Linked DNA regions of Homo sapiens: regions 1 and 3 are each linked to region 2. The links come from fine-mapping of genetic effects on gene expression. A gene starts in region 2. Each other region holds a variant in brackets. All regions are shown on one strand. Distances are from middle to middle. Region 1 holds the start of PRR33 (proline rich 33). Region 2 holds the start of TNNT3 (troponin T3, fast skeletal type). Region 3 overlaps LSP1 (lymphocyte specific protein 1).

Region 1 (8,170 bases), 28 kb after region 2:
CAGTTTCTCACTAAGAACAGAAAGGAGGCTGGGATGTCCGCCCTCATCACCTCCGTCCAACATTGACCTGGAGGTTCCTGCTCGTGCAATTAGGCCCCCAAAAGAAATAAAAGCCATACAGACGAGAAAGGAAAAAGAAAACAATCTTATCTACAGATAACGTGACCATCTAACCCGATGGAATCAACAACAAAAGAAAAACCTGCAAGAACTACTCAGTGAGATTAACAAGGTTGTGGAATAACAAGACTGATATACAAAGTCCATTGTGTTTCTATAAAATGGTAATCAACTATCAGATATTGACATTAAAAATACCACTTCCTAACTGTATAAAAATAGACAATACTTAGAGGTCAATCTGACAAAAGATGTGAAAGACCTCCAAATTGAAAGAGTAAAAAATCCTTGGAAGAAGTGGAAGAAGACCTGAATAAATAGGGACATCCAAGGTTCGTGGATTAGTAAGTTCAATACTGTTAAGATGTCAACTCTCCCTGCATTTATAGAAATTCACAGGTCCATTCTAAAACACATATGGAAAAGCAGAGGAGGAGAAGAGCTAAAACAATCCGGAAAAAGAACACAATTGAAGAGCTAACATTCTAAGAATTCATATAAGACCAGTGTAAGCAAAACTTGAGTGATACTGGTGTAAAAATATTCAAGTAGATCCAAAAGAAAACGGTCCAGAAATCAGCTTACACACACAGACTGATGACTTTTTTTCAGGCAGGGTCTCACTCTGTTGCCCAGGCTGGAGTGCAGTGGTGCAATCTCTGCTCGCTGCAGCCTCAAATTCCCAGGCTCTAGGGATCCTCCCACCTCAGCCGCCCAAGTAGCTGGGACCGCAGGCACCCACCACCATGCACAGTTCAGACTTTTGACAAAGGTGCAAAGGCGACTCGGTGCACAACTGTAGCTTCTTCAAGAAACCATGCTGCAGCAATTTCATATTCTGGAACAACTGGATCTCCATATGCAAAAAGAAAAAGAAGAATAATTTGCATTCGTACCTCACACTATACACAAACATTAACTCAAAAAGGATCGTGGGTCTAAATGTAAAGCTGGAGCCATAAAAACACAGGAGAAAATCTTTATGGCTCTGGATAAGGCAAAGATTTCTCAGACATGATACCAAAAGCACAATTCCTAAAAGAACAAATTGACAAACTGAAATTCATCAAAAATGTTTAAAATTTGCTCTTCAGATGGTTAACGGTGAGAGGACAAGGCCACCAACCAGGAGAAAAATCTTTGCAAATCTATTTCATCAAGGATTGATTCAGAATATATACAAAGAACTCTCACGGTGGCTCACGCCTGTAATCCCAGCACTTTGGGAGGCTAAGGCAGGCGGATCACTTGAGGTCAGGAATTCGAGACCAGCCTGAACAACATGGTGAAACCCCACCTCTACTAAAAATACAAAAATTAGCCCGGCGTGGTGGCAAATGCCTGTAGTTCCAGCTACCTGGGAGGCTGAGGCAGGAGAATCGCTTGAACCCAGGAGACGGAGGTTGCAGTGGGCCAAGATGGCGCCACTGCACTCCAGCCTGGGCAACAAGAGCAAAACTCCATCTCAAAAAAAAAAAGAAAGAAAGAACTCTCAAACTCAACAATAGGAAAACAAATAACCCAATTTTACAGCAACGGGCAAAAGATCTGAACAGATGCTTCCCCCAGCAAGATGTATCAGTGGTGAAGTAGCACGTGCAAAGCTGCACGGCACCCCTGGTGCCGGGAGACACGCAAGCCAAAATCACAGACCGCACCCTCCACGTCTAGGAAGGGCCAAAGTCAGCGAGATGAACCATTCCAACTGCAACAAGAAATGAGAGCTAGGCCGTTTCTGAACAAGTTTCACACACACCTCCCACGGCATCTAGTCGTTTTATTTCTAGGCCTCTCCCCAAGAGTAAAGGAAATGTATGTCCTTCTGAAAACCTGTGTGTGAATGTAAATGGCCACATTACTTTCCATCATTCAAAACTGGAAACCACCCTGATGTCCACCAAGAGACGAACAGATGAGCGGGTTGGGGTGTACCCATGCTGTGGCAATAAAAATGAGTGTTTACAACAGACACAGCAGCAAGCATGGATCTCAGAATAGTTATGCTACGTGACAGAAGTCAGACAAGGAGTGCGTGCGTGCTGCAGGATGCCATTTATGTAACACTGTAAAAAAGCACAAACCCTTGGGTGCAGGGCTCATGCCTGTAATCCCAGCACTCTGGGAGGTGGAGGCAGGGGGGGTCGCTTGAGCCCAAGAGTTTGAAGCCAGCCTGGGCAACATAGCAAGACCTCGTCTCTACAAAAAAAATCAAAAACTTAGCCAGGTGTGGTGGTGGGCACCTGCGGTCCCAGCTACTTGGGAGGCTGAAGCAGGAGGATCCGTTGAGCCCAGGAGGTTGAGGCTGCAAGGAGCTCTCATTGTGCCACTGCACTCCCAGCCTGGGAAACAGAGTGAGGCTCTGACACACACACACACACACACACACACACACTCCCACACTCCCAGCCTGGGAAACAGAGTGAGGCTCTGACACACACACACACACATTCCAGCCTGGGAAACAGAGAACTTGTCACACACACACATACACACAAACACACACACACTCCCAGCCCGGGAAACAGAGTGAGGCCCTATCACACACACACACACACACACTCCCACACTCCAGCCATCCACCCACCCACCTACCCATCCACTCATTCATCCCTTCCTCCATCCATCCTTCCCGCTCTCTGTCCATCCATTCATCTATCCCTTCACCCATCCATCCACCCACCCATCTACCCATCCACTCATCCATCTCTCCATTCATCCATCCACCTATCCATTCACTCACTCACCTATCTATCTATCCGTCCTTTCATCCATCCTTTCATCTACCCATCCACACATCCATCCCTCCATTCATCCATCCACCTATCCATCCATCCACCTGTCCATCCACTCTCATCCATCCCTTCATCCATCCATCCATCTACCCATCCATGCATCCATCCCTTCATTCATCAATCCCTCCATTATCTATCTATCCATCCATCCAACCACCTACCCATCCCTTCATTTATCGCTCCTTCCATCCATCCATCCACCCACCCACCTACCCATTCACTCACTCATCCCTCCCTCCATCCCCCCTCTCTCCCTCTGTCCATTCATCCAGCCATCCCTTCATCCATCCATCCACTCATCTACCTATCCACTCATGCATCCCTCCTTTCATCCATCCACCTATCCATTCACTAACCCATCCATCCATCCA[TCCAG/G]CCAGCCAGCCAGCCAGCCAGCCATCCTCCCACCCACCCATCCATTCACCCACCTATTCACCCACTCATCCATCCATTAGTCCATCCATCCACCCACCTGCTTACCCATTCACTCATCCATACATCCCTCTATCCATTCATCCATCCCCTATTCATCCACTCACCCATCCCTCCACTCACCCACCCAACCATTCATCCACTCACCCACCTACCCATCCATTCACCTGCTTATCCGTCCACTCATCCATCCATCTATCAATCCATCCATCCACCCACCCACCCACTTACTCATTCACTCATCCATATGTCCGTCTATCCATTCATCCATCCCCTATTCATCCACTCACCCATCCCTCCACTCACCCACCCAACCATTCATCCACTCACCCACCTACCCATCCATTCACCTGCTTATCCGTCCACTCATCCATCCATCAATCCATCCATCCACCCACCCACCCACTTACTCATTCACTCATCCACATATCCCTCTATCCATTCATCCATCCCCTATTCATCCACTCACCCATCCCTCCACTCGCTCATCCAGCCATTCATCCACTCACCCACCTACCCATCCATTCACCCACCTATCTGTCCACTCATCCATCCATTCATCTGATCATCTATCCATTCGTCCACCCACCTACCCATCCATCCATCCACCCACTTGCCCACCCAGCCATTCATCCACTCGCCCACCTACCCATCCATTCACCCACCTATCCATCCACTCATCCATCCATTAATCTATTCATCTATCCATTCGTCCACCCACCTACCCATCCATCCATCCACCCACCCATCCACCCATTTGTCTGTTTTCCAAACCTTCACTGAGCACCTCCTGTGTGGTGTTGGGGGAGGCCCCGAGGTGGATCTTGCCCTCAGTGGGTGCGAAGTCAAGGCACAGAAGTTTATATTGGGCTAGTCCTGGTTGGGGTAGGGATATCACAGACATTCTGGAAAAGGAAGCCCGGACCCCACCCATTGTGTGTGCTCTGACTTAGGCCACCAGAGAGCTTATGTCCTGGCGTCTTATACTGCAAAGGCCATGAGACAGGTCAGACTGCCTGAACCCAGAGGCCACAGCATGCTGTGCAGTGTGGGAATGGGCTGGCCACTGGCCCAACATTTCCATCCTGGCCAGCCCTGCCCCCTTAGTGAGTACAAGACAGCCAGCACATGAGAATACACAGGGAGCTTTATTATACAAAATGGCGGGGTGGGGGGCGGCAAGCAGCGGGGGACGCAGCATCAAGCATCCTGCATGGCCGTTATCAGCCCTTGACCTGCAGTTTCTCCTTGGATCTGGGGGGGTGACCCACCCTCTCTGCACAGGCTGTGCCTCAACCTCCTAACTTCCTAGAAGGCACTTGGCCTCTCCAGGGGTAAGTCCCTTTGGCCAATGATCAGGAGTTTCTTTCCTCCCCCAAGTAACAAGAAGCGGAGCTGGGTGGGGAGGGCGGGGGCGGTGGTCAGAGAGTGGAAGGGCAGAGAGGCTAAAGGGTCCAGGAGCAAAAGGAGGTGGCAGCGGATGGCATCAAAGAGGCGAGGGTAGGTCATGCTGGCAACAGGAAGCAACTTCTTAGCCAGGGCCGGGGGGCGGGTGTCTGGCTGGAATCTCCCCTGGGTACATGGAGGGTGCCAGCCGGCTGGACCTGCAGACCCAGGAAGCTGGAACATAGGCATGGGGTGCAGGGGGCATTAGGCTAGGGTCCAGGGAGGGGCCACAGACCTGCCTCCTGCAAGCCCACAGAGCCTGCTCCCCGAGCCTCTCTCTGCTGGCCTCCCTGCCCTGCCCACACCCCCACTCCACCACAGGAGAAGACGTCCTGCCTCAGAGGCCTGCTTCCCAGTGCGAGCACTTGTGCCCTGGGTCAGGACCTCTGGCTGGAGACCTGACTCCTGGTGGAGGGAAGGCGGCCTGCCTGCCAAGCAGCCTGCCCACCCTGGGAGCTAGAACTGGGGTTCTCGTGGTTCCTGCAGTCCCGTCATCCAGAGGAGGCCGGTAGCTGAGAGCAGTCCTAAGCAGGCTCCTTCCGCCCCCACCCCTCCAGCAGCTCTGTTCTTGCCTTGGCAGAGCCAGCCCCCACCAGCGGCAGCCCCCAGGACTCCCTCCTTCCCCAAACCAGAGAGCCTCTGGCTCGGACAGATGCCATTTGTCAATGTCCTTGCAAACACGTGGTGCCCAGAAACCAGGGTGGGCGGCTTGGCCGGGCCACCCCAGACAGGAGGTCTGCGGGAATATCCCATTTAGCATAGCTCAGCGAAAACTGCTCCCACCTTCCGGCCAATCTACCTCTGATGATGCAGCCTCGGCTTTCCCAAGCCTCTTGGCCGCCACCCCTCACCGCTGGCTCGCAGCGGACGCGCCTGTGGTTGAGCCGGCGACAACAGGGCGCCCCTCACGTGTCTGGGGGCAGCCGCTCTTCCAGCCCTGGGCTTGGCCAGCAGCTGGCCAGGGGCATGCCTGTCACTTGGGGCTCACCCGCGTCTCCGTCTCCCACCCCAGCCCACACGGTGTTGCGGCCTGACCCAGGCTGTGTACTTGGGGCCTGCTTTGTGCTGGGGTGGCATGGAGGACAGAGCCCTGGAGGCAGGTTCTAGCCCCATCCCTGGAGGGACTCGGCCTCTGTGGCCTCATTTCTACACTAGGGTGATGGTGGGGCCACCCCAAAGTCCCCAAGGCACAGTCGAGCTCAGCATGTCCCTGGCAGGTTCTGGGTGCTCAGGAAGCAGAATACTCAGGCCTCCACACCCCTGGCCCCAGGTCCTCCTTGGACCACAGGAGACACAGGCCTCCCACCTCAGGAGGGAGGAGGGCTGGCCTGACCACTGTCCCTCCCACCCTAGGACACAGTCATGCTCATATCGGCTGCGTCGATGGCACCCGAGGTGTGCGGCCCAAGCCTCCAGGGAACCCCTGGACCCCCACCGCCCCTGCTGCCCAAGCCAGGGAAGGACAACTTGCGTTTGCAGAAGCTCCTGAGGAAGGCAGCCCGGAAGAAGATGATGGGAGGCACACACCTCGCTCCACCCAGGGCCTTCCGCACCTCCCTGTCCCCCGTGAGTGAGGCCAGCCATGACCAGGAGGTCACAGCCCCGCACGCTGCTGAGGGCCCGCACCCCGCCGAAGCCCCACGCCTTCCTGAAGCCCCACGCCCCGCCGAGGCTCCCCGCATGGTGGCTGCCCTACCCCGCTCCCCGCACACCCCCATCATCCACCACGTGGCATCACCCCTGCAGAAGTCCACGTTCTCCATCGGCCTCACCCAGCGCAGGATTCTAGCTGCTCAATTCAGGGCCATGGGGCCCCAGGTTGTAGCCTCGGCCCCAGAACCTACCCGGCCCCCCAGTGGCTTCGTCCCTGTCTCTGGGGGTGGGGGCACCCACGTCACCCAGGTGCACATCCAGCTGGCACCATCCCCACACAATGGGACCCCTGAGCCTCCCAGGACAGCCCCAGAAGTGGGATCCAACAGCCAGGATGGAGATGCCACCCCAAGTCCCCCCAGGGCCCAGCCCCTGGTCCCAGTGGCTCACATCCGCCCACTGCCCACCACAGTCCAGGCTGCCAGTCCCTTGCCTGAGGAGCCCCCTGTACCACGGCCGCCACCCGGCTTCCAGGCCTCAGTGCCCAGAGAGGCTAGTGCCAGGGTTGTGGTGCCCATAGCCCCGACCTGCCGCTCGCTGGAGTCCTCACCGCACAGCCTGGTCCCCATGGGCCCTGGCAGAGAGCACCTGGAGGAGCCCCCGATGGCTGGCCCCGCCGCTGAGGCCGAGCGAGTGTCCAGCCCTGCCTGGGCCTCATCCCCTACCCCACCATCAGGCCCTCACCCATGCCCTGTCCCCAAAGTTGCACCCAAGCCCCGGCTCAGTGGCTGGACGTGGCTCAAGAAGCAGCTGCTGGAGGAGGCCCCAGAGCCTCCGTGCCCAGAGCCGCGGCAGAGCCTGGAGCCAGAGGTGCCCACCCCCACAGAGCAGGAGGTGCCTGCCCCCACAGAGCAGGAGGTGCCCGCCCTCACCGCACCCCGGGCCCCCGCCTCCCGGACCTCCAGGATGTGGGATGCCGTGCTGTACCGCATGTCAGTGGCGGAGGCCCAAGGGCGCCTGGCAGGGCCCAGCGGTGGGGAGCACACCCCAGCCAGCCTCACCCGCCTGCCCTTCCTGTACCGGCCTCGCTTCAACGCCCGGAAGCTGCAGGAGGCCACCCGGCCCCCTCCCACAGTCCGCTCCATCCTGGAGCTGAGCCCCCAGCCCAAGAACTTCAACCGCACAGCGACTGGCTGGAGGCTCCAGTGAAGTGGCCAGAATGGCCCCCAGAGCCCAGGACCATGGGATGGACAGAAGAAGGGGCTGAGGCTCTAGCTGGGGGCCCATAGTTGCTGCATGAAGATGCACCAGGGCCCAAGGGGCATGGGGTGCAGGGCAGCCTGGGAAGGGCACATGGGGTGCTGAGGGAAGTCTGCATGGTTAGGAGGGTGGTCAGGTGGACGGGGCAGAGAGGACGAGCTGGAGCCCCTGGGCTGCAGTGGTGTGAGGGGAACAGAGAAGGGGTCTGCGTCGGGATGTAGGATGGGGGCCTTGGGATGAAAACTTTAGGTAAGATGGCAGAGGACTGCATCTACTGACCTAGCCCAGGCTCCTCAGGGGCCTGGGCCTCTCACTGATCCTCCCTTTTGCTGTCACCTTTTGCTGTCAAAGGTTTGGGGCCAGATCTCTGCTTGCTGAGGCATGGGTGCGGTCAGGCTGGCTTGGCCATCGGCGTCAGGAGCAGTCAGCAGTTTTGCTGCCTGTGCTTCCTGATGGCAGAGCCAGATCCTGGGACTAGGGTGCAGGGGGGAGCCCTCAGCCAGCGTGGGACTTGGCACCAATACAAG
Region 2 (8,170 bases):
TCAGGACTCCTCACAGGACAGCCCTGCCTGCTAAGGTTGCGTGAACGCGCTCCCCAGTTGAGTGGGTGCCAGGGATTCCAGGGCAGCGCCGTCGGCCTGAGAACCGCCACCCCACACGGTTCCCAGGTGCGCCCACACCCGCCCACGCCTGCCCGGGCACGATGGAGACGCCCACAGACCACACCTGGCCAGCACAGGGAGGGGGCTCCAGGCTCCACCCAGGGTTACAGCACAGGGTTGGGGGGTGGCATGGAGGGATGGAGACACAGAGAGACAGAGATGGAGATGGAGGTGGAGAAATGGGGACAGAGAGGCCAAGAAAGACAGAGACTGAGAGAGAGAGGCAGGGAGAGACAGAGACCAAGAGGCTGAAAGATACAGAGACAGAGAGAAGCTGAGAGATACACAGGCACACAGAGAGACAAAGTTGCCAAGAGAGACACGGAAAGGAACTGGAGAGAGATGGAGAGACTCTGAGATGCCGGGAGGGTAGAGATAGAGAGAGAGGCAGAGAGACAGCAGCACTGGGCACGCAGGGCACTCGGTGTTTTGAGGCCTTCATGACCAGCCCCAGTGAACTCCACACACCATGGCACACGGAGGATGAAGGATTAATGAAGGATCGTGAATGCATATTAATCGATTAAAGAGACAGGGGTTAGTGATGATTTAATGACTCATCCATCATTAATTAAGTGGTGGCCTCATTTATCATTAATTAATGATGAATGGTGATTGTTAGTGACTAATGATGAGGAAGATGGAAGGTTGATTGACAAGCTCAAGGCGGCCTGGAGCAGCCTGGGGAGGGGGTTCTGTGAGCGCCACACGGGAGAGGGGGGTTAAGTTCCAAGGAGGGGCTGGGGGGGCTTCCGGTGGTTGCCAGAATTACCTTCTTCTTCGTACTGCTCTGCATTGGGACAGAACAAAGAGGGGAACCACGTTAGAAGGGGCAGCCCGTGAAGGGAGGAGGAGGATGAGAGGCCAGTGTGTCCCGGCCCTGGACAGGCCAGCGACTGCCCCTGCCCAAGAGCGTGGAATCAGGGGTCCTCGGGCCCTGAGGAGGCGCTGGGGAAGGCAGAGGCTCTGGTGATGATGGTGGCTTTTGGGGGGCTCGGGGGTCCTGGATGCCCACGTCCCACAGTGGGCATGAGAGAAGCAGAGAGACAGGACCCAGAGCCTGACCTGCAGGCCCCTCAGGACCATGTGGCCACACTTCGGGGAAAAGACGAGGCCCCCCACTTGGACAGCTGTTTTCCGGGGGTCACTCAGAAGCCACCCATGGGATGCAGCTGATGTAGGGCTGTCAAGGGGACACAGGGTATGCACAGTCCAGCCCCCTGCCCACATGTGAGCCTTCCTTCTAGAGCAGGAAGTAGAAAGAAAATGGCTGTTACACTTACCCTCCACCTGTTCACTGTGGGGCAGGGAGAGAGAGAGAAAGAAAGAGAGAGAGGTAGTGAGGCTGGGCTTTGCTTGGACTTGTGCAAGATAGCGCATGCTCCAGCCCCACAGAAGCCAAGGGGCCAGGGTCCCGAGCCAGGCAGGGGGCAGCCACCAGCTGGGTACTCACACTTCCTCGTCAGACATGGTGAAGGTGGGTGGTTTCTGCAGAGAGAGATTCAGAGAGAGAGAGAGAGAGAGGATGGAAAGAGAGTTACGAGCTGCCTGGGTGTAGGATGGGGGATGGGGTCTTGGAGCAGCGCTGTGGGGGACCGCGGGCAGGGTTTGGGGGCCAGCTCTGGCCTTGGGTGAGTCCACCTCCTTGGGCCTCCCCTTTCTCCAGGGCTCCTGGCCCCTCCCAGCTCTTGGCGCCCCAGACTCTGTCCCCTCTTCCTGCCCTGGCTCCAGACTGGAGCTTGGAATCTTGGAGCTGGAAGGGATGTTGGAAGGTCGTGGCGTCCACCCCCACCCAGGGCAGACATCCTCTCCGTGGCGTCCCCTGAGGAGGGTCATCCAGAATGCAGGCCGTGTGCCGTCCAGCCCGCTCTAGACACTGGAAAGGTCCCGCTGATGGAGCTGAAACCTGTCTCTGGGTGTTCTCTGCCCAGTGGGTGTAGGTGGGGTCTCCCTGGGAGCCCCTGGATGACCGAGACTGGCTCCCCAAGATGAGTAATCTGCTCACCCTACCATTCCCCATGAGAACCCCTCTTCCCTATTTGAGCCCAAAGCTCCCTTCTGTGCCTGTTTTCCTATGGGGTGCCCAGAGTGTGTCCCACCACACCCCTCTGAGGACCCCTCCTCCAAGATCACAGAGCAGGGAAGCTGTTCCTTCTTGTTACCCCTGTACCCTGAAAACATTGAGGCTGAGCCCCAGAGCACGTTGGGTTGGGTCTGGGCCGCTTCCCGTGCACCCCCCCGGGCCGGGCTCTGTACAAGGCATACTTGGACTGCAGGAGCCCACAGAACAGCCCCCCCATTTCCCTCCCTGTGGCCGCTTTCCCTGGTCCCGGGGATGCTCTGGATCTGTCCCTGTCTAGGGGAAGCTCCATGCCCAGGACTGGCTGCCCTGTCCATGTGCGGTGGTGGCGCCAGGCCAGCATGCTGGGGACCGTCTCTCTGTGAGCTGGCCACCGTGCACACTGGGCGGCCAGGCCTGGGGAGGCTCTGAGCAGCTGCACCGGCATGTTGGCCAGGGTTTTAGAAAACAAAGTTCATTACAACACAGTACAGATTACTCGAAGACAATAGCTACGGTCCCCCCTGGGAGTGTTGTATAAGGAAAACACACGTTCATCAGCTAAAAATGCATCTACGTTGCACTGCTGAGGTGGGAACCGTTTTCCAAACCCTCTGTCAAGAATGTTAATTTTCCCAGAGCAACTTAAGCTCCATGCAAAATTACCCAGCAGATAGCTGTCTTCCAGGCAACGGGGGTAGCTTTTTCCTATCCCAGAATCTCTTCCTGAGACTCTGCTGCCCCTCAGGTTAAGCCTCTTGTAACTGCCACGGCTGGGCCAGGCTCTCCTCAGTCCTCAGCCCCACGAGCCAGTGTTGTCCAGGCCCCCGGTGTGACCCAGTCCCAGGCTGCCCACCAGCCCCTCGTGCTGTCCTCCCAGCTGGTTCAGGCCCCAAACGCCACAGACTCCTCTAGGGCCATCCTCTGTAAGGAGGAGGAGGGTCAGTGAAGGGAGGGAGCGGAGCCTGGCCCCGCCCTGCTGTGCCCAGCCCGACGCTGGCGGGGCAGACACCTGTCGGCTGCCACAAGATGGGGGCAGCGTGGCCCTCGCCTGGGGTGGGTTATTTATAAGGAGCCAGTGGCAGCTGAGGTGTCCAGAAATAGGCAAGACGTTTCTGCCCAGAAACCCAAGACGTGGGTGAGGCGGGTGTGACAGCCCAGCCCTCCTTGGCCCACAGCTGCCCCCTCACCCTCGGGCACCCAGGCCCTCCCCAGCTCCTCATATTTCCCTCCTGTCCCCCCAGGCCAGAGTCACATGGGTGCCCCAACACCCTCAGGCAGGGTGACCTCCAGGCCCCCCGACGTGCGCTGGAAAGGCCCACTCTCCAAGTGGGGAAACTGAGGCACCTGGTTTTCTGCTGAGCGCCTGGAAGCAACACAAGGCTGTTCTGTTCCCCCCAGTATGGCCTGTGTCATTGCCTCTGTTGCGGGGAGGGGCTGGTGGCAGGGGTGTGCTGGGGGCAGGGGTGTGCTGGGGGCAGGGGATGGCATTTCAACAGCTGAGACGCAAAGCAGGTGTCCAGTTAGTGCCTGCCTTGGAGGGGCTGCGTGAAAATAACCTATGCGGTCAGTTTCTTCGGGCACGTATGCATCACCTTTCCCTCCTTGGGAGGTGACGGGGCCAGGGCAGGGTGGGGAGGCAAAAGCCGCTGCCCCTTGCTTGCTGTGGCCCTGACCATGCCCCCAGACCTGTTCTCCACCCAGCCAACCTTTGCTTTGCCCCATGTCCCTCCGTGGACTTCAGGAGGGGCAGCCAAGGCCTGATCAGACGGCACAAGTCAGGGGGACCGTGTCCAGGGCAGGGAGGGTGGGTGGGGGCTCTTACGAGCGCCAGCTTCTCCAGCCTCCAGCCAGGGGGACGCGATGAAGCCCAGCCCCTCACTCTTGCCCCGTCCTGCCCCAGTCCAGCCCCTGTCCACTTCTGTCCTGCACCTCCAGACGCTGGCCCCCAAGGCTGCGTGGGCTTTAGACGCCCCCACCCCAACACACTCGGGCTGGCCATACAGGAGCCCCTGCCCTCCTGTCCTCGTTTTCATCTCTACAAAATGGCGGTGTTGGAGGCCCAGGTGCGAGAGCTGCATGGCAAGGCCAGGACGGGCCTGGGCAAATGTCTGCATGGCGACCACAAGCTGGCAACCTAAGCCCTGGCAGCACCCCTGCACAGCCTCTTCCCTGCCGCTCACAGCCCGCACCTCTCTGCCTCCTGCCCTCAGGCCACTCCCTAGCACTGAGCTTCCCTGAGCCCCGACTTGCCCCCTCCTGGCCTCCCACACTCTGCCTTCTTCTGCATCCTCCCGGTGCTGAGACCATCACACCACCATGTCCGCATCCCAGACTCTCCGGACGCTGGAGCAGCCACCTGGGGGCTCCGAGCCATGATGCTTCGAGATGCTCGGCACCACACGGACCTGGGACCTCAGCGCCCCAGGACCCCAGAGTGTCCCTGGAACGAGGGGCTGTCCACCCGCACGCAGGAGGCCCCGTCGGCCCCAGTCCTGGGTGGCCGCTCCTGCCTATACCCACCTGCGGGTCGAGTGTGAGAAGGGCTGGAGCTCCCTGTGGACAGCACCGGCTGCAGGCACTGGCGCCCGGCTCACACCCTCGTGTTATAGTGACATTTGATCTTCCTAGGAGCCCATTGGCCAGTGACTGGGTGGCCGGGGTGTGTGCGGAGTCTTGCTGGGGGGGGCTATGCCCGTGCAGGCCCCTTACCAAGTATAGGAATGGCCAGAGGAGGAGGCTGAAGGAGGCCAGGATGCAGAGGACGTGCTTGGAGAAGGAGGCAAGGTCCTCCCTCCGCCTCCAGGAGGTGTCAGCTGCTATTTTTACTCCCAGCAGCGGGTACATTCTGGATGGGCTGAGGAGGGAGGAGGAAGGTGTTGGGTGGCCCCGGGGCACCAAGCCGAGGCTCTCTTTGGGCCAAACTAGTGTGGGGGTCCCCAGAGCCAGGCTGCCGGGTTTCCCACCCCCCCGCCCCTTCTCTCTGAGATGTTCTGTGGGAGTAAACATTTGTCCAGGAAAAGGGTCCGCACAGCCGGGGTCCCCTCCCGCCGCCCGGCCCAATGCCCCAGGCCCTTCGCTGTCTCCCCCGGGGAGGAAGCAGCCTGAGGCCTCGGAGACCCCCCATGGAACTGAGGCCAGGCCCCCACCCTATCTGAGACCCTCTTAGAGGCCAGCTCTGCTTTCCTGGCTAGACACCGTTGGGGCCTACACAATAAGCGGGCGAGGGACATGGCCAGGCTGGCTGCAGTCCGAGTCTGCCATACCTCCCCCCGGGGCTGCTGCCATTGCAGGGGGCTACACATGGAGTTTGCTGGGTAAGGGTCTGGGTCCTCCCTCTAGGCCCTTTCTAACCCTGGGGCCCCACCCTGGGCACTCGCAGTGGCCGTTACCATCTGTGCCAGCATCTCCCACAGGCTCATTGTGGCGTGTGGAGACTGGTTTTCTTTCCTCAGGACTCCAGGTGGCACCGTCCGACTAGCAGACATCCTTCCTGGCCTCTGATGGCCTGTATGCTGGCCAGTGAGGCCACCAGATTGGATAACCCTGCCTCTTGGATCAGGGAAACTGAGGCACCAGGTGGGGGAGAGCAGTCTGGCACCCTGACCCACCCCCTCACTCCCCTCAGACCCCACAGGCTGAGCGTGGGCGGTGGTGTCTGCGGAACTCTTCGGTTCAGGCACAGATTGGTTCCTTCTTGGCCAGCGCCCAGGACAGGGGTGAGTCCCGAGAGGCACAGATGAGGTCCCTGTCCTCCCCAGGCTTAGAGTCAGGGACAACAGGATAACCCGGCAGGGGCTCACAGTGCCCTGGGGCCGGGTCGGGGGCCTTCCGGAAGGCTGTGGTTGGCACCTCATTCCACCCCTCCATGGAAGAGCGAGGCCGCAGAGCCCAGGGACAGGCAAGGTGTGCCTGGGGTCACACGACAAGGCGGGCTGGCCCCAGGCTGCCATTTCAAAGGACAGGGCCGGTCCCCTGCCTGCCTCCCGCTGAGTGCCCGGCACTGGGAAGGCTCTTGGAGCTGGGGTTGCTGGGAACGTCGCCGTCCTCCTGCTCTGGGTCTGTGGCTTCGTCTGCATTCCACGCCTTCCCCTCCCTGTCCATGTCCTCGATGGGCAAGGCTTTGGGGGCCACAAACAGCCCTGGCCCCTGGATATCTGTGACCAGCTTCCTGCCCACTGGGGACATCTGCAGAACTGCTCCCTCAGAGGCACGTGAGCGGGTCCCTGGGGGTCAGCGGGCCCACCCCATCCTCTCCCATGGTGGGGCCAACCTCCTTTTCCAGGCTCGCTCTGCCGGCTTCTCTAACGGAGCCCTGAGCCCACCATTCTGGTTACACGTGGTTCAGTCTGCAGGCCTAGGAAGCCTGTGCCCACCCAAGCCCTCACCCAGGCCAGGGGTCCTGAGGGGCGCACCTGAAGGTGGGTGTGCCATAACCCTGCACTGGCCCCGTGTGGCCAGCAGGGGAAGGTGCTGCCCGCCCAGCTCCTGGAGCTTTGGCAGGCGCTCTCCGCCCAGCCAGCTGAGGTCAGAGGGATAGGGCAGGTTTTATTTTGGGTATCGGCGACCTCCCCCTCGGGCGCTGGGCCTGAGGCGTAGCAGGGACTGCACAGAGCAGGCACCAGCGGCCTCGAGGGCCTGCACCAGGTAACCCATGCCCTGCTGCCATCTGGCCGGACCGGGATGGTCCAAGGAGAGGAGGCAGGGCAGGGGCCTCCTGGGGGACTGTAGACCTGGGTGGGGGCAGGGCACAAGGGAGGCCCAGCCTGGGTTGGGGACGCATTTCCACCCAGGAGGAGTCTGAGGACGGACCACGGGGCCTTGGCTCTAGGGCAGTTGTTGGGGGATGGGGGGGTTCTGAAATTGGCAAATGCTGAGCCAAGCCCAGGGAGTGGGGAGCAGGCTGTGGGAGGGAGGATGGCCTCCTGAGTGTCTTGGCTGCAGCTCCCTGCCTGGGTGGCCCCCAGATGGTGGCCGGGGCCCCTCAATCTAGGTCCCAGCACCCAGTGCGCATGGTTGGGGGTGGTGGAGACCAAGAGGGTCCTGAGCCTCTCCTCATGCCCTGAGCTGACCTGAGCCCCCAGGCTGGATCCAGCCTGAGGCCGCTCGGCCCAGCTGTGGGCTCAATCACTGCCAGGCCCAGGACAGGAGCAGCTGACACAGCACTTGGGAACTGAGCTGCTCCAGCCCTAGGTAGCTGCCTCCCCACATGCCTAGTGCTTCTGATTTTGCAGTTTCATTGACTCGTTCTGCAGATATGATGGGTGTCTTCTCTGTGGCTGGCCTAGGGGCTTGTAGCAAGGGTCACAGGGTGTCTGGTGGCTGCTCTGGCAGGCAGGACAGAGGCTAGGGGCTTCATCTGCCATCCCTGGCCAGGGGCCTCTTAGGCTGCAGGCCTTTTGAGCCTCCTGACCTCCGCATTGGGCATGGCCTGACCTCCAGGTTTCCAGGAGCAGGGGCATGGGGTTGCTGTGGCCGTGGACGGGAGGCTGCATCAGAAACACAGCAGGGCTGTGGCTGGGTAGAGCTCAGAGGGACAGGCCCTGGGTCCTTGTTCTCGAGGCTGAGCCGAGGGGTGCAGATGATCTGACAAGGGGCCAGGGCTGGTCGGGGGCGGGGTGGGCAGTGGCTGCCTCCTCAGCACTGCTGACCCCAACTACCCCCTGCCCCTGGTGCTGTCCACTCTGCACCCCAGTGCTGAGTGCCCAACTGTGGCCTTTGGGCCTGCCTCTCGGCTGCCCTTGGTCACCGTCCCAAGCGGATCAGGTGGGAAACAAGGGGAGTGCTGTCACTGGGTGGTTCCCCAGCTGGGGAGGGTGGCCTGGATCCTCTCTCAGTGGCTGGGGCATCTGAGAAAGGATGGGGGCACGTCACCTCCCTTGTGTGGGTGGTGGCTCTGTCGAGGTTTTGCTTTTCTGAACTGTGTGTATTCATGAGGCAAGCAGGGTTTGACATGAAGCCTTCAGAAAATAGTGGCTGTGAGGACCCAAG
Region 3 (8,170 bases), 53 kb after region 2:
TGCCCACGCCAGCCGGACAGACCCCAACTCTACCAGCACGGGCTGGGGTGACTACAGCCCAGGCCTGCCCGCCACACACACCCCCCTCCCAAAGGTGCCCACGCCAGCCGGACAGACCCCCAAGTCTACCCAGACACCCAACAGGAGGGGTGCCCGTGCAGCGGCAGACAGCGCTGACCAAAGGGCATCTATGACCCTGGAAACCTCATGGTGTGGCCTCCGCAGAGCCGCAAGCCTTGGCCCCCTGCTGAGACTGGAAAATGGAGCCTGGTTTCCCCCAACCCCTCTACCCCTGGCTTCCCATTGGTCCTCAGAGGCTGGGTCAGGGACCGTCCTCAGAGCAGGGTCCAGAACCGGCTTGATGTCCTGCTGACCAGCCCATCACCTCCCTTGCGCTGGGTGCCCTACCTCTTTTGATGTGCTCTGTGGTCAGCCCTGTGCCGGCAGCACCCTTGTCCCGCTCTGCAGCTGTTTCACATCTCTGCCCCCATCTGCGGCGACCAGCCTGGGTCGGAGGTTAGGGCCCCGCCCTGCTCGTGGGTGGCCCTGCCTGCTGCATCCCGGCGGCGTGGCTGCGGCTCTGCCTGCCCCGTGCCTGCTCTTTCTTCCCCCCTCCTCCTGTTCTGCGTGCTGTGCATATGGCTTTCTGTCTTCCTCCGTGTCACTAACCACAACGCTGCCGAGCCCGTGCCACGAGCGAGGCGACCTGCGGGACCTTTCTGGGGCCCTCGCCTGCACTCCGCGATCAGCGTCCTCCGCCGCAGCTCTCACCCTCGCATGCGTCTACATGCAGCCCCACTCGGTGCCTGCTTCCCGCAGGAGGGGACCAAGGAGCCCTGATACCTACAGGTCCACCGACAGCCCGGCTGCGCCTCCCGCCTTTGCTCGACGGCCCTCGGGAGCGCTGCGGCGCCTGGGCCAGCTGGGACTGCCCTGGCAGAGCTCTTGCCGTGCTCACGAGGCAGGCTTTTGGCACGTTCTGGGACACGCAACCAGTCCCTGGCAACGGCTCGAGGCTCTGCCATCCTCTTTCCTTCCCAGCTAGCCATGCCCAGATGTACCTCACATCCCTGAAGTCTCTGCCCACAGATGCTGCCCGAAGCGCTCCCATCCTCCACGCAACCAGAGGCTTCATACATTATTCAGACGTGGTGCCCACCTGGGCGGGAGCCACAGCCGGCACCCAGAGAGAAGGACCAAGCCAGCCTGGCATTCAACCACCTGCTCCACTCCCACAGCACCGGGATCTTCCTACCGTAGCACCCAGCAGCCAGGCCCTCTTCCTGACACCCCCACACCATGTCTGCCTGTGGAGCTCTGGGGTGCCCGGCCTGGCCACCGGCCCCTCCCCGAAGCTTTCATGGCTGACCAGCCCCTCCCAGACTCATCATCCCTGGGGGTGCAGGGAAGACATGGCAGAGCAGAAAAGAGTCTGCCCCTGGGCCGGCACTTCTTTCCCAGGAGACTCCCCGGTGTATGTCCCCGGGTGCTGCGGGCACCCCCTGCCAAGCCCCAGGATGGGAGTAAGCTTTGGTGCCTCCCTGAGCCTCAGCTTTCCTGTTTGCAAAATGGGGTATGAAGGACCAGCTTCAGTGGGCCGTGGGAGACTCACATGGCCTTGGGATGTCCTCATGGCTGAGGTCAAGTGGACCGGCCTTGGTCCTCTGCACCAGAGGTCCAGACATCCCCGTTTAAAGAGGCACAGTGAGCACCAGTGCAGCCAGCGCCTCCGTCCTCACAATGGTCGCCAGGGGCGCAGTCCTATCATCCCCATTACAGATGCACAAACGGAGGCTCGGAGGTGCACCTCTCACGTCTCACGCAGGGGTCCCAGGGAGCTGATGACGTGGCTGGGGCTCCAACCCCTCAACCCCCAAGAACCGGGTGTGGGGAAGACCAGGCAGGGACAGAGGCCAGAAGAGGTGCTGCTCCTGAATGTGAGTGGAGGGTCCTGACCCAGGGGGTCCCAGTCCGGGTGCAGAAATTCATTTCTCAGTCTCGGGGAAAACCAGCCCCCCCCACGCCCCCTCCTCTGTGGGGCGCCCCATTTTCCTCGCCCGCCCTCTCCTTGGCAAGCTCGCCAGCCCTCGCCTGGCCTCACTGCGTTCCTCCAGCATCCATTTCTCGCTTCTTTGATCTTCCTCCTACCGCCCGTCTTTGGAGCACCAAGAAGCTGTGTGAGACAGCGGCTCTGAGCCTTCTGCCCCGGCACCTGCTAGGTGCGGCCCACGTGGGAGAGACCCCTCCTCCCACACCTGGGGTCGGCGGCAAGGGGCAGTGCCCGGGACCCTCACACAGCTTCCATTCGCACCTCAGCCCCTCCCTCTGCCCTTCCCATCCTGCCACCACCCTGCACCCGCTTCTGCTCCCCCTCCCTCCTCCTTCAAGGCAGCCCCTGCTCTCCCTCCCTCTCAGCATTTTTCCCTCCCTTTCTCTCATTTCTTTCTCGTGCCTTCGCTTTCTTTCTTTCTTTTCTCTGTCACTTCTCCCCAGGTAGGGTTTGTTCTCGTCAAGAGACCCTCACAGCCCCAGGCACAGGGTTGCCCCCCTCCCAGCATCCCTGGCCAGGCCCGGCCCTCAATCTCACCTCCGCAAGCACCACCTCAGCTCGCACCAATACCTCCCCAACCCGTCATGGGTAGCAGCCGACCCTCAAGCCTCCCGGGTCTCAGCCCACTTGGAGCCTGGGGCAGGGGCCAAGCCCCTCACCCTTCTCCCTAATGGTCCCCGCCCCATCCAGGGGTCACCCAAGGGCTTCTCTCCCACAAGCTCCCACTTGCAGTGGCTCCTGTCTGCCCTCCAGAGACCTCTGTGGTTAACCCCAGTCCACCGACCTCTGCCAAGCCGCTCTGAGCCGGATGCTCAGTCCCCGGGGCCATGCTCCCTCTGGCCTCAGGGTGCCTCCCCTTTACGGTTCCAGCAGGGGCATCTGGGGGTCGAGTGCCCAGGGCACCCTGGCTGCCGCTTGCTGGCCGCTCTGCCCAGCTCTGGTTCGCCGGCTGGGACTGAAGCCTGAACCGCCGTCCTCTGGGCTCTGGCCCTGACACCCTGCCCAGGGGGCTGGGCCACTCGGTCCCTGCACCCCTGCTGCTGGCTCGCCTGGGCTTCTGGGCAGGACGGGCTCTGTCCGAAGACCGACTTCCAGCCCTGCCAGGGCGGGGGCTACCCCACCCTCAGGATCTCAGGCCTGGATGGGCCCAAGGCAGCCACACCCTTTTGGACACTGTGGTTGGAGGCCTGGCTTCCCCCAGCCCCCTCAGGGCCAGCCCAGCAGGCTGCCAGCCCATTCCTGCCCCACTGGCCACATCAGGAGCCCCAGAGGTCCCTGGACCAGGCTGCTCAGGGTGGGTCCCTGCCTGAGGGGCCTTAGAGCCCTGCGGAGAGCCAAGCACGGTGTGGCTGCCACATCTGTATATGTGTGGGCAGATGTGTGCCCGAGATGGAGGGAATGGAGGGGCTCACACCGCCCAAAGAGCCATGGCTAAGGGTGGGCACGGGGCTCCGGGGACCTCAATGCTTGATAAGAACGTCTGCCAGGCTGATCCCCAGCCCCCCTCTTCACTCCGGGCCAGGCTACAAGGCACTCTCAGCCGGCCTGGTGCCCTCTCACAAAGCCAGGACCCCACAGGTAGCAGGGCCAGGCCGCTGGCTGAGTCCGGGTGACGTCTGGAGTTGAGTGGGCTGAAGTCCTCTTGAGGTCCCCTGACCATCCCTAACACTTGCCTTGCCCGAGCTGGCCCTGGGAGAGCCCCGAGTTGCCCAGGGGCAGGCAGGAGGCACAGGGCAGACTCCCAGGTGCCTGGAAGGGCAGACTTGGCAGGGAGGCATTGGGGGTAGGTCAGCCCAGGGCCTGACCCTGCCAGCCAGAAGCCGCATTCTGGCAGGGGCTGGGTACAGCCAGACCTGGAGAAAATGGTGTTATGGGACTACATGCAGAGCCCCTGGGCTTGCACTGGGTGTAGACAAGGAGAATCGCTGGGGCAGGGGTGGGGGGCGACGGGGCAGGGGGGACACGTTTTCCCACTGGCCCAGAGCACCATTTTTAATGGATGTAAACTGCATTGAATTTATTCCCTGGCAGCTGCGGGCACCTAGCATGGCCCTTCAGGGTTCATCACTGAGGACACAGCACTTTGCCTGCAATGCCTCTCCCAGCCCTGCACCTGACATGGCAGGACACCCAAGGGGTCCCCGGGAAAGGGGTGGGGTGATGCGGGTGGAGGAGGGACCCAGGGACCCGGGCTCATCATGCCCGGCTGAGTGGCCTTGAAGTCTCTTCACCCACAGCTTCTCTGAGCCTGGCTCACTCCTTTATCCAACAGGGAGTGGGTAGGGGGCAGTCTGCCTGGCCTGCAGGGCTGGGACTGGGGAAGTCCGAGCTGTTGGAGGCTGCAGAGAAGAGATCATGGCAGTGGTGGTGAGCGCAGTACTGTCCC[G/A]GGTGGTCGTGTGTGTGTGCATGTGTGTGTGTGGGTGTGGTGGGTGGGTGGGGTGCAGCGGCCTCTGGGTCTGTGTCCTGGAGGGGGTGTGTATTAGTGCACACGTGTCAGCCTTGCTTCATGTAGCTCACCTTGGTGGCTCCCCTTAGCTGGACAAGGGACTCTTGCTGCCCTCTGCCCAGCCCCCATCAGGACAAGTTCCAAGGGAGTTCAAAGGGACGGGTCCTTATGCCACCAACCCACTGGCTGACCACCGCAAGTGAGGTCCCCTCCTCACTGTCTCCTCCCCAGGTCCACAGGGACTGGCCCCGAGCCTGAGCCCACGCGGCTTCAGTGCCTCCTCCCCAGGTCCACAGGGACTGGCCCTGAGCCTGGGCCCACGCGGCTTCAGTGTCTCCTCCCCAGGTCCACAGGGACTGGCCCCGAGCCTGGGCCCACACGGTTTCAGTGCCTCCTGAGTGCGGCTTGCTCACCTGGGGCTGCAGTTGGTGCTGGGCCCGCTGGACGGATGCTCATGGCCGAGCCCCTGGTGACAAGGGGGTGAGCCACCGCACAGCCAGGCAGGGGCTCTGCCCCTCCTCCGGGGGCTGCACTTCCTTCTCTTGGGCCCATTTGTTAAGTAGCACTGGTGAGCCTGGGGGATTGACCCCAGGCACTCCTCAAATCCCAGGCCACAGAGCTCCTGGTGGACAGCAGCGTCCCCTGGGAAAACACATTCCCGTTGGGCAGGGAGGGAGGTCTGACCAGCAGAGCCTGGAAGCCCAGGAGGAGGAGGCTTATGGGGGGCCAGGGGTAGGGGGAGGCTGGGATGAGGTGTGCCCAGCCAGGGGCCCACTGCAGATCCTGGTGCTGGTCCTGAACTCAGGTGACAGCCGGAGACCCTGCCAGGTGGGGACCAGATCGGAGCCATCTCTCTGCATCTGCACGGACCCAACAAGTGGGAGCTGGGGAGGAGGGGTGAGCCGGGCTGCCCTCAACTCCTCAGACCCCACTTAGCTCACCCCCATGGGCATCCCTGGCTCTCTGGCCTCTCAGAGTCTCAGCACTGAGTGCCTGGCCTGGGTGGGCAGTGGCAAGCCGACCGATGCCAGCCCTGCCTTCCAGTAGCTCGAGGTCCGGCCAGCATGCTCCATGCCATCAAAGGAAGTCAGAGCAGGACAGCCCTCCAGGTTAGGAAGAAGCAAGGCAGCCTTCAAGCAGGAGGTGGTGTTTCAGTTTGGCTTAAAAGCCTGGAAGGGTTGAGGAGGAGAAAGGGCACTACAGGCGGCTCAGAGTGGCTGACGGTGCAGAGGGATATCTCTGAGACTGCCCAGGCTGGGTCTTGAGGAGCCTTGGGCCCTCCAAACTCTGCTCTCCCACCTGACCCCATGAAGGGCCACACCACTACTTTACAGAGGAAGAAACAGGCTGGGAGAGGGCACCACACTGGCCCAACACCTGCAGGTGGACAAGGCCCGGGCACCTTCCCTGGCCCTGAGGAGCCTCCCACTCAGGGTTGGTGGCTGCAGCCAGGGCCGGTAAGCTCAGCCCAAAGTTCAGTTTCATGATCTGTGAAGTGAGGGTGACTGAAGGGTGCCCAGGATCCGAAGGACCCCACGGGAGGCCCCAGAAGCCACCCAGAGGATGGGCCCTTCATTTTGGGGGCTCAGAGTCAAGCAGAATCCCTGGGGCTCGGGGAGAGGTGTGAGCAGGTGACAGTGCAGCCGGCGGTGCAGGTGGGACGGCGTGAGCGGGTGACAGTGCAGTCGGTGGTGCAGGTGGGATGGTGTGAATGGGTGACAGTGCAGCCGGCGGTGCAGGTGGGACGGTGTGAGCGGGTGACAGTGCAGCCGGCGGTGCGGGTGGGACGGTGTGAGCAGGCGACAGCGCAGCCGGCAGTGCAGGTGGGATGGGGAAGGAGAATGCATGGGCAGCTGCCAGGAGCCAGGAGGAAGAGAGGCCTCAAGCAGCCTCCGCACTCACACATGTACACGCAACCAGCCTGGCACCCTCTCGCTGCCCACGCTTGGGGCAGCAGAGCCTACCGAAGCTGGGGGGAGGCCCAGTGGCCCGGTGCATGTGGCAGCCCAGCATGGGCACCCTGCCCTGCCCTCCATGCCCAGCCAGGGCAGGAGGGACCTACCTCAAGAGGTATCCAGGCCCTGTCTGCTAGAGTTCCTCCTCAGAAGCCCGGGACTGCCCAGGCTGCAGCCTCTGCTCAGGCGGCGACCTGGCCTGACCCCAGCCCCGGGGATAGAGCAGCATCTCAAAGGCTCCTGTCCTGCTGGCCCTCCTCTCTGCTGCCCTCCTCCCGCACCCCTGCCCCCCTGTGCCCAGCTCTCCTTGGCTTTCCTGCCTCTCCTGGCCCCTCTCACTCCTGCACTTCCTTGGCGCTCTGCCCTGGCCCTCGGTCTCTCGCTGGCTGTCACCCCTCCCCTGTCCCTTCTCTCTGTCTGGTGTTCTCCTTGTCCCTGTGACCCTCTGCCTGCCTGTCTTGGCCCCTCTGGCCCCTGGCACAGGAGTCTGTGGGCCGGCTCCCTTGGGCAGCCTGGTCCCTCCCTCTGGCACCTGGCACAGGGGTCTGTGGGCAGCCTGGTCCCTCCCTTCGGCTCCTGGCACGAGGGTCTGCAGGCCGGCTCCCTGCAGGCAGCCTGGTCCCTGTGTCCCCATCCCTGTGGGTCTCCCTGACTGTGGGTCTCCCTTTCCCCTCTCCTACTTCAGGACTCTCAGCAGCTGCTTCTCTTTTGTTTCCCCCAGCCCCCTTCTCCTCCCGCCTCCATCTCTTCCACCTCCACCTCCTCCTCCTTCCGAGAAGAGTAAAAATGTCAGAGCGAAAACTCTCCCAGCCCAGCAGCGTGGGGCTCAGCCAGACCTCTGTGGCGCGCTGATGGGCAGCGTGGCTGCCTCCTTCCCTCCCTCCCTCCCTTCCTCTTTCCCTTCCTCCCTCCGCCTCTGCCCTCAGGCCACCTTGGTAGCCGCTGCCCGCTTCTCGGTCTCCCCTAGCCCTCTGTGGTGCCCCTGCCCCAGGCACAGGGGCCTATTCTGCCCATCGCCGCCTCCCACCTCGGAGTGCCTCATGCCCTCTGCCAGGCCCTGCCCGGGCCCTCCTCTGTTCTTCTCCTTCGTCGGCCGTTCTTGTCCAGCCCCTCGTCAACCTGCCACCTCCCTCACCATCATCGCAGGCCTGGACCCTTCGCTGGTTCCTCTTTGTCCCGTCCCCTCCTTCCCCGTCTCGCACTCAGCCCCTCTCTCCTCTCTCCTTTCCCTCTGGTGTCTCTGTCCCTATCTCTGTCTCCCTCCCTCCTTCCCTCCTCCCTCCCTTCCCCTCCCCTCCCTTCCTCTCCCCTCCTCCCCTCTCCCCCGCTCCTGGTTCTCCACTTTCCCTTTGTTCATTCCCGGCCTCTGCTCTTGTTGTCACCTCCAGAGAAGGCTTGGCACCCCAAGAACCCTCTCTGTTCCCCAAATGGGGAGGCTGCTGCCTTTCCTGGTGGGCCCAACCCCCCAGCCAGACTGCAGAGTTGACCCAAGAGGCAGAGACGCCACCAACGCAGCATCTTCGGTTTGGTATTGGCACAGCATGGTCCCAAGAGGTGGCCAGTGGGCACAAAGTGGGCCTGGTGCCCTCGCCAGCCAGGCCCCCCTTGCCCGCGTCCTCTGGCCCTGGCCCAGGGAGGAGCAGCCCAGCCCTCTGTTCCTCTGGTTGGGCTTGGCTGCTGTGACTCACTGGAGAACACTCGGGGCTAGTGGCCGGACGG

What was found.
Region 1: its variant is fine-mapped to the expression of TNNT3 in whole blood (INTERVAL, PIP above 0.99).
Region 3: its variant is fine-mapped to the expression of TNNT3 in CD4 T cells (BLUEPRINT, PIP 0.92).

What each region holds. Positions count from the first base shown.
Region 1 is chr11:1,888,567-1,896,736 of GRCh38, reverse strand. It overlaps LSP1 (lymphocyte specific protein 1), which reads right to left. Exons shown (of 11, transcript NM_002339.3): 11 at 4,474-4,964. It overlaps PRR33 (proline rich 33), which reads left to right and starts at 4,842. Exons shown (of 1, transcript NM_001395380.1): 1 at 4,842-8,170. The coding sequence starts at 6,153. The coding sequence ends at 7,592. The variant TCCAG/G (reference allele first, on the strand shown) is at 3,284.
Region 2 is chr11:1,916,295-1,924,464 of GRCh38, reverse strand. It overlaps TNNT3 (troponin T3, fast skeletal type), which reads right to left and starts at 4,762. Exons shown (of 16, transcript NM_006757.4): 1 at 4,703-4,762; 2 at 1,574-1,608; 3 at 1,404-1,417; 4 at 893-910. The coding sequence starts at 1,590. It also overlaps a transcript of PRR33 not described here. RefSeq lists an enhancer at 7,395-7,444 and a silencer at 7,995-8,044.
Region 3 is chr11:1,863,651-1,871,820 of GRCh38, reverse strand. All of the region lies in intron 1 of LSP1 (lymphocyte specific protein 1), which reads right to left. Among named protein-coding and RNA genes, the nearest start is that of MIR4298, 8.2 kb to the right of the region's middle. RefSeq lists enhancers at 144-681, 682-1,220. The variant G/A (reference allele first, on the strand shown) is at 4,437.